Linked DNA regions of Homo sapiens: region 2 is linked to region 1. Evidence: fine-mapped expression QTL. A gene starts in region 1. The other region holds a variant in brackets. All regions are shown on one strand. Distances are from middle to middle. Region 1 holds the start of USP40 (ubiquitin specific peptidase 40). Region 2 overlaps DGKD (diacylglycerol kinase delta).

Region 1 (4,401 bases):
GCTTTCCAGATTTCAGAAATGCGTATGAACAACTGTGCACCCATATAAATAATATGACACCCTTCCCCACTCCAAAAGGTAGATATAATTGGTTGGATAACTCTGGCTTAAGTGTTTGTTATTCTAGAGAAATCTTAAAACTCAAACAGTGTAACAATAATGAAGACTGATACTTATGACAATTGTCTTTACGTTGTACTTTAAATTACAGGAATTAAAAAAGAAATATATTGCTTTATTTTTTTACTAAACATTATTGTCATCACCCAGGATATATTTAAGATTAAGCTTCACATTTCTCTGCAGAGGGAATTACCAATTTATATCTTATATGTGCAACAATAAACACATACTGTAGAATATATCTTTAAGATAATTGGTCTATTTGTGATTTTGCATAATTAATTACATGTAAAGAAGATGGTACATATTGCTAGTTAAATGTACGTAACATAGCATACCTCTGAATTCAGGTGTGAAATGAAGAGTCTGAAGAAGGGAATTGAGGTAACAGGTTCCACCCTGATTTCTGATTCCGCTTAAATTGGTGAATTCTCTAGGAGCAGGTGGCTCCAAAGCTTTAGTCTTTAATTTCTTCCCTTTTCCATACTGATTATTAGACACAGTGGAATACTCCTCTTCAAACAGGTCCCCAAACATTGTGAAACTAAATACTACCCTTAAAAAAAGTGACATATAAATGCTTTTATTTTTAAAATAAATTTTCCCCAAATCCCCCTACCTTACACTTGGGAGTCGATTCTGTTGTTTCTTAGAACACAGGACTACTGTTTCTATGTACAGTAGTTGGGTTTTGGAGGCAGCAAGATCTAGATTTTTTTCATCCCTATCAGGACCCTAACTACCTGTGTGACCCTGGATATGTTAATCTGTTTTCTTATGTGTAAAATAGGATACCATCTGTCTCTTCGGGTCATTTAAACTATCCAATGACATAACGAAAGAAGGGCAGTTAGTGTACAGGGTTTGGCCCACAATAAGTAACAGCTGTTTTTAAAAAGGCACGTTCACATCACTAATTTTTTTAAAAAAGAAAACCTGTTGCCACAACTAATCCACTGCTGGGACGGCAAAGCCAACCCTAAATTCTGAGAATCAACTCTCTAAAATCTCTGCTTGTCACACCCTTCAGTACTATATACCAGATTATGACATTTAAATTAAACAGATCAAGTTAACTTTTTTTAGAGCACTTTAGTACAGTCCCGAAGCTGTTGGGCCGGAAGTCAGTTCACTGGGGAGGGAGGGGGGAAGGGGAGCGGAGGGCGGGGAAGACTGCCACTAAAATTATCAAGCCTAAAGGCCTTCCAGTATGTATCCACTAATCCCATCGTTAGCCCTGGGGGCCTAGGTGACTTCCCCAAGGTTTCACATCGAGTGTGGCGGAGGGTCACTTGGAGATGAGAAACGTAAAGCGCCTAGCATAGGTACCAAATGACAGGAAGCGCTGAAATGCAATTATTTTTCTTTTCCTCAGAAGAAAACTAAAAAAACACAACTCGAGAGTCTAGCCTCGAGCTCGTTGTCTGCATTCCTGAATTCCCAACTCCTACGGCCGGCCGAGGCCCTCCAAGCCACCACAGGCCCAGGGGCGCAAAAAGGCAGAGGTCCCCGTGGCCCGAAACCACTGCCCCGACTCCAGGAGAGCGCCGCGTCCTCAGGCAGGCCTGGGCAGCCTCTCGCCTCGCCCTCCTCAGACTGGGCCACCAACACTGTCCCTACGCTTCCCACGTCCCTCCCAGGATCCCCGGGCGCCAGCCGCACTTACTGCCTAAAGCCCAGACCCCCGCCCTGGCCAAAACGCGAAGCGAACGAACCCGCCCCAACTGGGCGCCGCCATGTTGGCGAGGGCGGGTCTCCAGAAAGTGATTTATGGATCGTGGACTATGCTTCCCAGGATGCCCCGCTGGAGCGCCGGCCCCTCGCACGGGGCCTTATGGGAAATGTAACTCTTCTGCTCCAAGAGTTTGGGAACTGGAGCGGGAGCGGGAGCGGGCAAGGTGAGCTCGCTTACAAGTCCGCTGGTGAGTTCGCGGGTCCACTCGGCCAGCGGACCACTCATTCGTTCACATTTATAAGATTATAGCTATATGATCTTATATAAGATTATAGCTATATGATCTTATATAAGATTATAGCTATATGATCTTATATAAGATTATAGCTATATGATCCTTATATAAGATTATAGCTATATGATCTTATATAAGATTATAGCTATATGATCTTATATAAGATTATAGCTATATGATCTTATATAAGATTATAGCTATATGATCTTATATAAGATTATAGCTATATGATCTTATATAAGATTATAGCTATATGATCTTATATAAGAGTATAGCTATATGATCTTATATAAGAGTATAGCTATATGATCTTATATAAGAGTATAGCTATATTATAGCTATATAACCTTATATAAGATTATAGCTATATAACCTTATATAAGATTATAGCTATATAACCTTATATAAGATTATAGCTATATAACCTTATATAAGATTATAGCTATATAACCTTATATAAGATTATAGCTATATAACCTTATATAAGATTATAGCTATATAACCTTATATAAGATTATAGCTATATAACCTTATATAAGATTATAGCTATATAACCTTATATAAGATTATAGCTATATAACCTTATATAAGATTATAGCTATATAACCTTATATAAGATTATAGCTATATAACCTTATATAAGATTATAGCTATATAACCTTATATAAGATTATAGCTATATAACCTTATATAAGATTATAGCTATATAACCTTATATAAGATTATAGTTATATAACCTTATATAAGATTATAGTTATATAACCTTATATAAGATTATAGTTATATAACCTTATATAAGATTAGTTATATAACCTTATATAAGATTATAGTTATATAACCTTATATAAGATTATAGTTATATAACCTTATATAAGATTATAGTTATATAACCTTATATAAGATTATAGTTATATAACCTTATATAAGATTATAGTTATATAACCTTATATAAGATTATAGTTATATAACCTTATATAAGATTATAGTTATATAACCTTATATAAGATTATAGTTATATAACCTTATATAAGATTATAGTTATATAACCTTATATAAGATTATAGTTATATAACCTTATATAAGATTATAGTTATATAACCTTATATAAGATTATAGTTATATAACCTTATATAAGATTATAGTTATATAACCTTATATAAGATTATAGTTATATAACCTTATATAAGATTATAGTTATATAACCTTATATAAGATTATAGTTATATAACCTTATATAAGATTATAGTTATATAACCTTATATAAGATTATAGTTATATAACCTTATATAAGATTATAGTTATATAACCTTATATAAGATTATAGTTATATAACCTTATATAAGATTATAGTTATATAACCTTATATAAGATTATAGTTATATAACCTTATATAAGATTATAGTTATATAACCTTATATAAGATTATAGTTATATAACCTTATATAAGATTATAGTTATATAACCTTATATAAGATTATAGTTATATAACCTTATATAAGATTATAGTTATATAATCTTATAAATATGAATGAATGAGTGGTCACATTTATAAAGATATAAGATTATATTTATATAATCTTATATCTTTGTCTTTCGTCTGTGAATCAAACTAATGGCATGTCAAAGTATTGTCTGGACAATCCTTTCATTCCATAGCTTCCTCTCCTCCTATCAGATCCCCATGAAATCTCACCTGCATTAGGATGATAGCCTTTTCAGTGGACTCCCGTTTTACACACCCCTTCCTGCACGTCACTATAAGATGCACTATCCATCTAAGGTGCACTTTGAGCTCAAACCTCTCTGCTAAAGAAGCTTCCACGATTTCTCAACATCCACTGTGGAAATTCTTTATTTTGATTCTTAGTTCGCTGATGGTCCCAACATTCTTTTCATACTGTATTTCTCACTACACACCTATTTACCAAAGTGCTTTCAAATGTGCCATCTATAAAGCTGCTAATCCCTGAGCCTTTAAGGGAAAAGATAAACACCAGCTGCAAGTCTTTTTGTTTTATGATAAAAAGCCCTGTACAACGAAAACACTTTTTCTGGTTTGGTTCCATGAAAACCAATGCTCTGTCCCTGAAGTCAGGAAGTACCTTGCCAGTAAGGGACTTCCTTTTAAATTGCTTTTGATATTGGACAATGTCCCTGGCCACCCAGAACCCCATAGATTCTGCAATGAGAGCACCAAAGTGGCCTCCTTGCCCCTAAACACAACATGTCTAATTCAGCCCTTAGATCAAGGGGTCATAAGGAACTTTAAGGCTCATTACGTACGGTTTTCTATGGAAAGGGGTGTCAA
Region 2 (4,401 bases), 110 kb before region 1:
GTGGGCGCTTTCCAGGGCCATGTGGCTGCCTCATGTCCTGTCCTGGACAGCTCGTGGCCCCACTTCCTGGGCCAGAGCCCTTTCCTTGTGCTATGCTTGACAGTTAAATTCTCAAGATAACTCTTTTTAATTTTTTTTTTTTTTTTTGAGACAGAGTCTTGCTCTGTTGCCCAGGCTGGAGTGCAGTGGTGCAATCTCGGCTTGCTGCAACCTCCACCTCCCTGGTTCAAGTGATTCTCCCGCCTCAGCCTTCCGAGTAGCTGGGACTACAAGTGCCCACCACCATTCCCAGCTAATTTTTGTACTTCACCATGTTGGCCAGGCTGGTCTCGAACTCCTGACCTCAAATGATCCACCCACCTTGGCCTCCCAAAGTGTTGGGATTACAGGTGTGAGCCACTGCACCCGGCCAAGATAACTCTTTCAAAATGTGTATCCTGCTTGAACCACAGCCTTGCCTGTCCCCTCTGAGGTGGGATGAGATAGAGCAGACCCAGGCTGGACTCTGCCCGTGTCTGCAGCTGTCAAAGCCGCAGTGGGGACGGAGCCCATGGCTCTGATGTGGGGTGTGGGAGGATTTCCAGCTGGGGCCCTCGATCATGGTTCTGAGGCCGAGTGGTGAAGGGCTGGGGGTGCCCCCATGGCTTATTTCTGACAGCAGCGATGGGCTGAGGGCAGTCTTTCTGTGAGGATGGGGCAGGACTCTGTACCCAGGCACAGGCACTGGGGCGGGGGAGGGTGCTGATGACACCCACTGGCTGAACCCCACCCTGCGACTGTCTGGTGTCTTCCAGCACTCTGTCTACCCTTAGCTGTAGGCTGCTTGAAGTTCACAATTTTCACTCTTTGGCAATGTTTGTTGTTGAAAAGGAGGAACGGGATGATGATGGATGGCTCATCGTCATCCACTGTGCCATCTGCTCTTTTCTAGGGGTGTTTTCACGTGGCAGGGGCCCAGTGGCTTCTGGGAGCTACAACACCCCTGCCCCTGGGTTCTGACACCTGTTGTCTCAGCACCAAGGTCTCCTGCACTGACTGCTCAGTGAGGGGATGGGGCGGGATGGGGCGGGACAGTGGGAGAACAGACCCTCGGTTGAGTGACACAACAGCAGAAGGCTAGCTGCAGGCGGAGCGCCATCCCAGAGGCAGAGGTGGGGTGTCCTGCAAGGCAGGGACGGGTGTGTGGAGCAGGAAGGTCATGGTGGTGCTGATAGCACTTTTAAACCCCTGGGGGTTTTGGCTCAGCATGAGTAATGGCTATGATGTCTGCTCAGTGTCGCACGGTGAAGATCTCCATCCTTGGGGATGAGGGCGTGCCTGTGCAGGTGGACGGAGAGGCCTGGGTCCAGCCGCCAGGGTACATTCGGATTGTCCACAAGAACCGGGCACAGACACTGACCAGAGACAGGGTAAGAGCGGCTGCCCGCGGTACCTGGGTGGGGTACAGGGCTCACCTGTGGGCTCTTGTGTGCACTGTTAAGAGCTGGAGCTTTTTGTGTTTTGTTCTAGGATTTTTTTTTTTTTTAAGACACAATGATTAAGCTAATAGGGCAGTAATTTCTAGGACCATCTCCTTCCCCTAATGTTAAAAAAAAAAAAAAGTCCTATTTGTCTCTTTCTAGTTGTGATCTCGTTGGCATCCCCATAGTGTCTGTCGCAGTCAGATGCATGCTTCAGAGCAGCAGGTGTAATTGGGCTTTCGGGTCCATAGGCATTTGAGAGCACCCTGAAGTCCTGGGAAGACAAGCAGAAGTGCGAGCTGCCCCGCCCTCCATCCTGTTCCCTGCACCCGGAGATGCTGTCCGAGGAGGAGGCCACCCAGATGGACCAGTTTGGGCAGGCAGCAGGGGTCCTCATTCACAGGTGGGCTCCTACCCCTCTGCGTTGCGCATGAGCCTCCCCCAGGGTCCCTGGGACTGCACTCTTCCAAGGCCCCTGGGGCGTGGAGCTGCTGCTCCTGACTTTTGTGGGGTCTGCATTACCCATGAGGGCCGAGCCTGTTTATGTGCCCTCAGCTCTGGCTCATTTCCCCAGTGGTCTTTCAGAACTCGCCTGGAGTTTACATGGCTGGAACCTAAAGCCCACTGTGATTTTCAGGACCACTCGTTTAAAACCTGCCCGGGCTCAGCCGGGCGCGGTGGCTCACGCCTGTAATCCCAGCACTTTGGGAGGCCAAGGTGGGCAGATCACAAGGTCAAGAGATTGAGACCATTCTGGCTAAC[A/G]TGGTGAAACCCCGTCTCTACTAAAAATACAAAAAAATTTAGCTGGGTGTGGTGGCGGGCGCCTGTAGTCCCAGCTACTCTGGAGGCTGAAGCAGCAGAATCAGTCGAACCCCAGAGGCGGAGGTTGCAGTGAGCCGAGATAGCGCCACTGCACTCCAACCTGGGCGACAGAGCAAGACTCTGCCTCAAAAACAAACAAAACAAAACAAAAAAACCCTGCCCTGGCTCCCGAGGGCAGCCCGCTGACAGCCGCCTTCACTTTGCCCTCGTTTTACCCTGAGAACAGGCTTGCTCTTTGTTCTCAAGTTTACTTTAAAAAAAAAAAAAAAAAAGACAACTGCTGGGGCATTTCCTCTCACCTGCCTTCTAGAAACACCCCTGGAGCCACTGTGTCCCTCGTGGCTGGTGGTCAGCATTGTCTGCCATTCCTGCTCCTCGCCCGCCAGGTGCGGGTTCCGCCTGTGAGTCCCTCCCAGCCGGCAGCTGTGCTGCTCCGCCGGTGCGGGGCCTGCCTGCATTCTCCCCCCGTGGCCGCACGCTGGCTGGTGCCCTGGTGTCCCTTTCTTGTTTCCCCTGGGCTCCTTCTTCTCCTGGCTGTGGACAGGTGCACCCGTCGGTTTTGTGCCCGGCATGCCGTGTGCCCTTCCAGGCAGCCTGCCCAGCCCTGGCGTGCAGATGGATCGTCTGTGCCAGCCTTCGGCTCTTGTCGAGCAGGTGGTCGCTGTCCCAGTCATCACCGGCGTTCCTCGCTCTGCACTTCCATACCGGCTGCAGTCCTTCCTGGCGCTGCATTCTCTGCCCCAGGAGTTGGTGCCACTGCGGCCCCTGTCCTCGTCTCTCCCCCACCCCACCCAGATCAGTGATGGGGCTGGAGGACTTCAGTTCAGCTAATTCCTTGCCGTGCAGTGGGCTTCTGGTGGCCTCCCCTGGAAAGCCATTACCCTGTCCCCTCAAAGCCCATGGTGGCCCCTCTGGCCTGCCTGGAAGGTGCACTTGCACAGCACTGCAGGAAGCTGCTGGCAGCGGCCTGTTTCCACAGGGTCAGGACAGGCTGGCCCCGCTGCCTTTGCTTGCACTGCTCCTATAGTCTCTGTCCCCCGATCTCACCTGCCTGAGCCACATCTCAGCCTCCCTGGGACCTGGTGTGACTTGTGCTCTCACCGTCTTCCCTATGAGGGCTGCTATCTGGGGTCTGGCTCAGAGCCCATCACTGCACCAGGATTGTCCTGTTCAGATGAGGGTCCTTTTGTCCCCAGGGACAGACCGGCCAGTTACAGGTTCCAGCAAGGCTGTGGGGATTGTGCCTTACTGCAGCAGTCTCTGCAGTGGGCCTGTGCACACTGTCACTTGCCCACTGGCCGTTTTACAGGTTGTAAGCCTCATTTTGTACATTTCTCTCCCTGGAAAATCTTGGATTTTGACGTCAGATTTCTCGTGGAAGCCCTCCCATTTGCTGTGGGTCATCCTGTGCCCAAGCTTGTGACTGAACGGTCGCTGGGCTGAGCCACGATCCCTGTCGTCCTGCTGGGCCTGCCCTCCACATCAGCCCTCCAGGTGGTACCTGGGCCGTGTTCAGATGCGTATTGTGAAAGGCTGCCCTTCCATTTGGCCTGACATCTGCCCGTGCTTCTCTTCCTCTCTAGTATCCGAGAAATAGCTCAGTCTCACCGGGACATGGAGCAGGAACTGGCCCACGCCGTCAATGCCAGCTCCAAGTCCATGGACCGTGTGTATGGCAAGCCCAGAACCACAGAGGTAGCTATTCTGGCCTTTTCAGTCCTGGCTTCTTCTCAGTGTCTGCCGCCCTCGGCCCTCCCCGTGCGTGTTCATTCCCCCGCCTCCCCGGTGCATGTTCGGCCCTCCCAGTGCTTGTTCCCTGCCCCTAACCGTGCATGTTCGGCCCCCCGCCCCCATGCATATTTGCCTGGTTTCTTCTAGGGGCTCAACTGCAGCTTCGTCCTGGAAATGGTGAATAACTTCAGAGCTCTGCGCAGTGAGACGGAGCTGCTGCTGTCTGGGAAGATGGCCCTGGTAAGCTGGTGCCCCAGGGACAGCAGGGCTCGGGCTGTGTGTGAAACGACTGCTGTCGCCAGGTTGCTGGGCACACAGGGCAGCACACTTTAGTCCAGAGTTCCCGGTCTTAAGGAATGGGCCGCAGAGGTCATTTGGTTTGTTGTGC

The links. PIP is the estimated chance that this variant, and not a neighbour inherited with it, causes the effect.
Region 2: its variant is fine-mapped to the expression of USP40 in fibroblasts (GTEx, PIP above 0.99).

Annotation. Positions count from the first base shown.
Region 1 is chr2:233,564,895-233,569,295 of GRCh38, forward strand. It overlaps USP40 (ubiquitin specific peptidase 40), which reads right to left and starts at 1,888. Exons shown (of 32, transcript NM_001365479.2): 1 at 1,790-1,888; 2 at 462-679. The coding sequence starts at 660.
Region 2 is chr2:233,458,483-233,462,883 of GRCh38, forward strand. DGKD (diacylglycerol kinase delta) reads left to right here. Exons shown (of 30, transcript NM_152879.3): 23 at 1,275-1,409; 24 at 1,712-1,863; 25 at 3,866-3,977; 26 at 4,161-4,253. Among named protein-coding and RNA genes, the nearest start is that of USP40, 110 kb to the right of the region's middle. The variant A/G (reference allele first, on the strand shown) is at 2,223.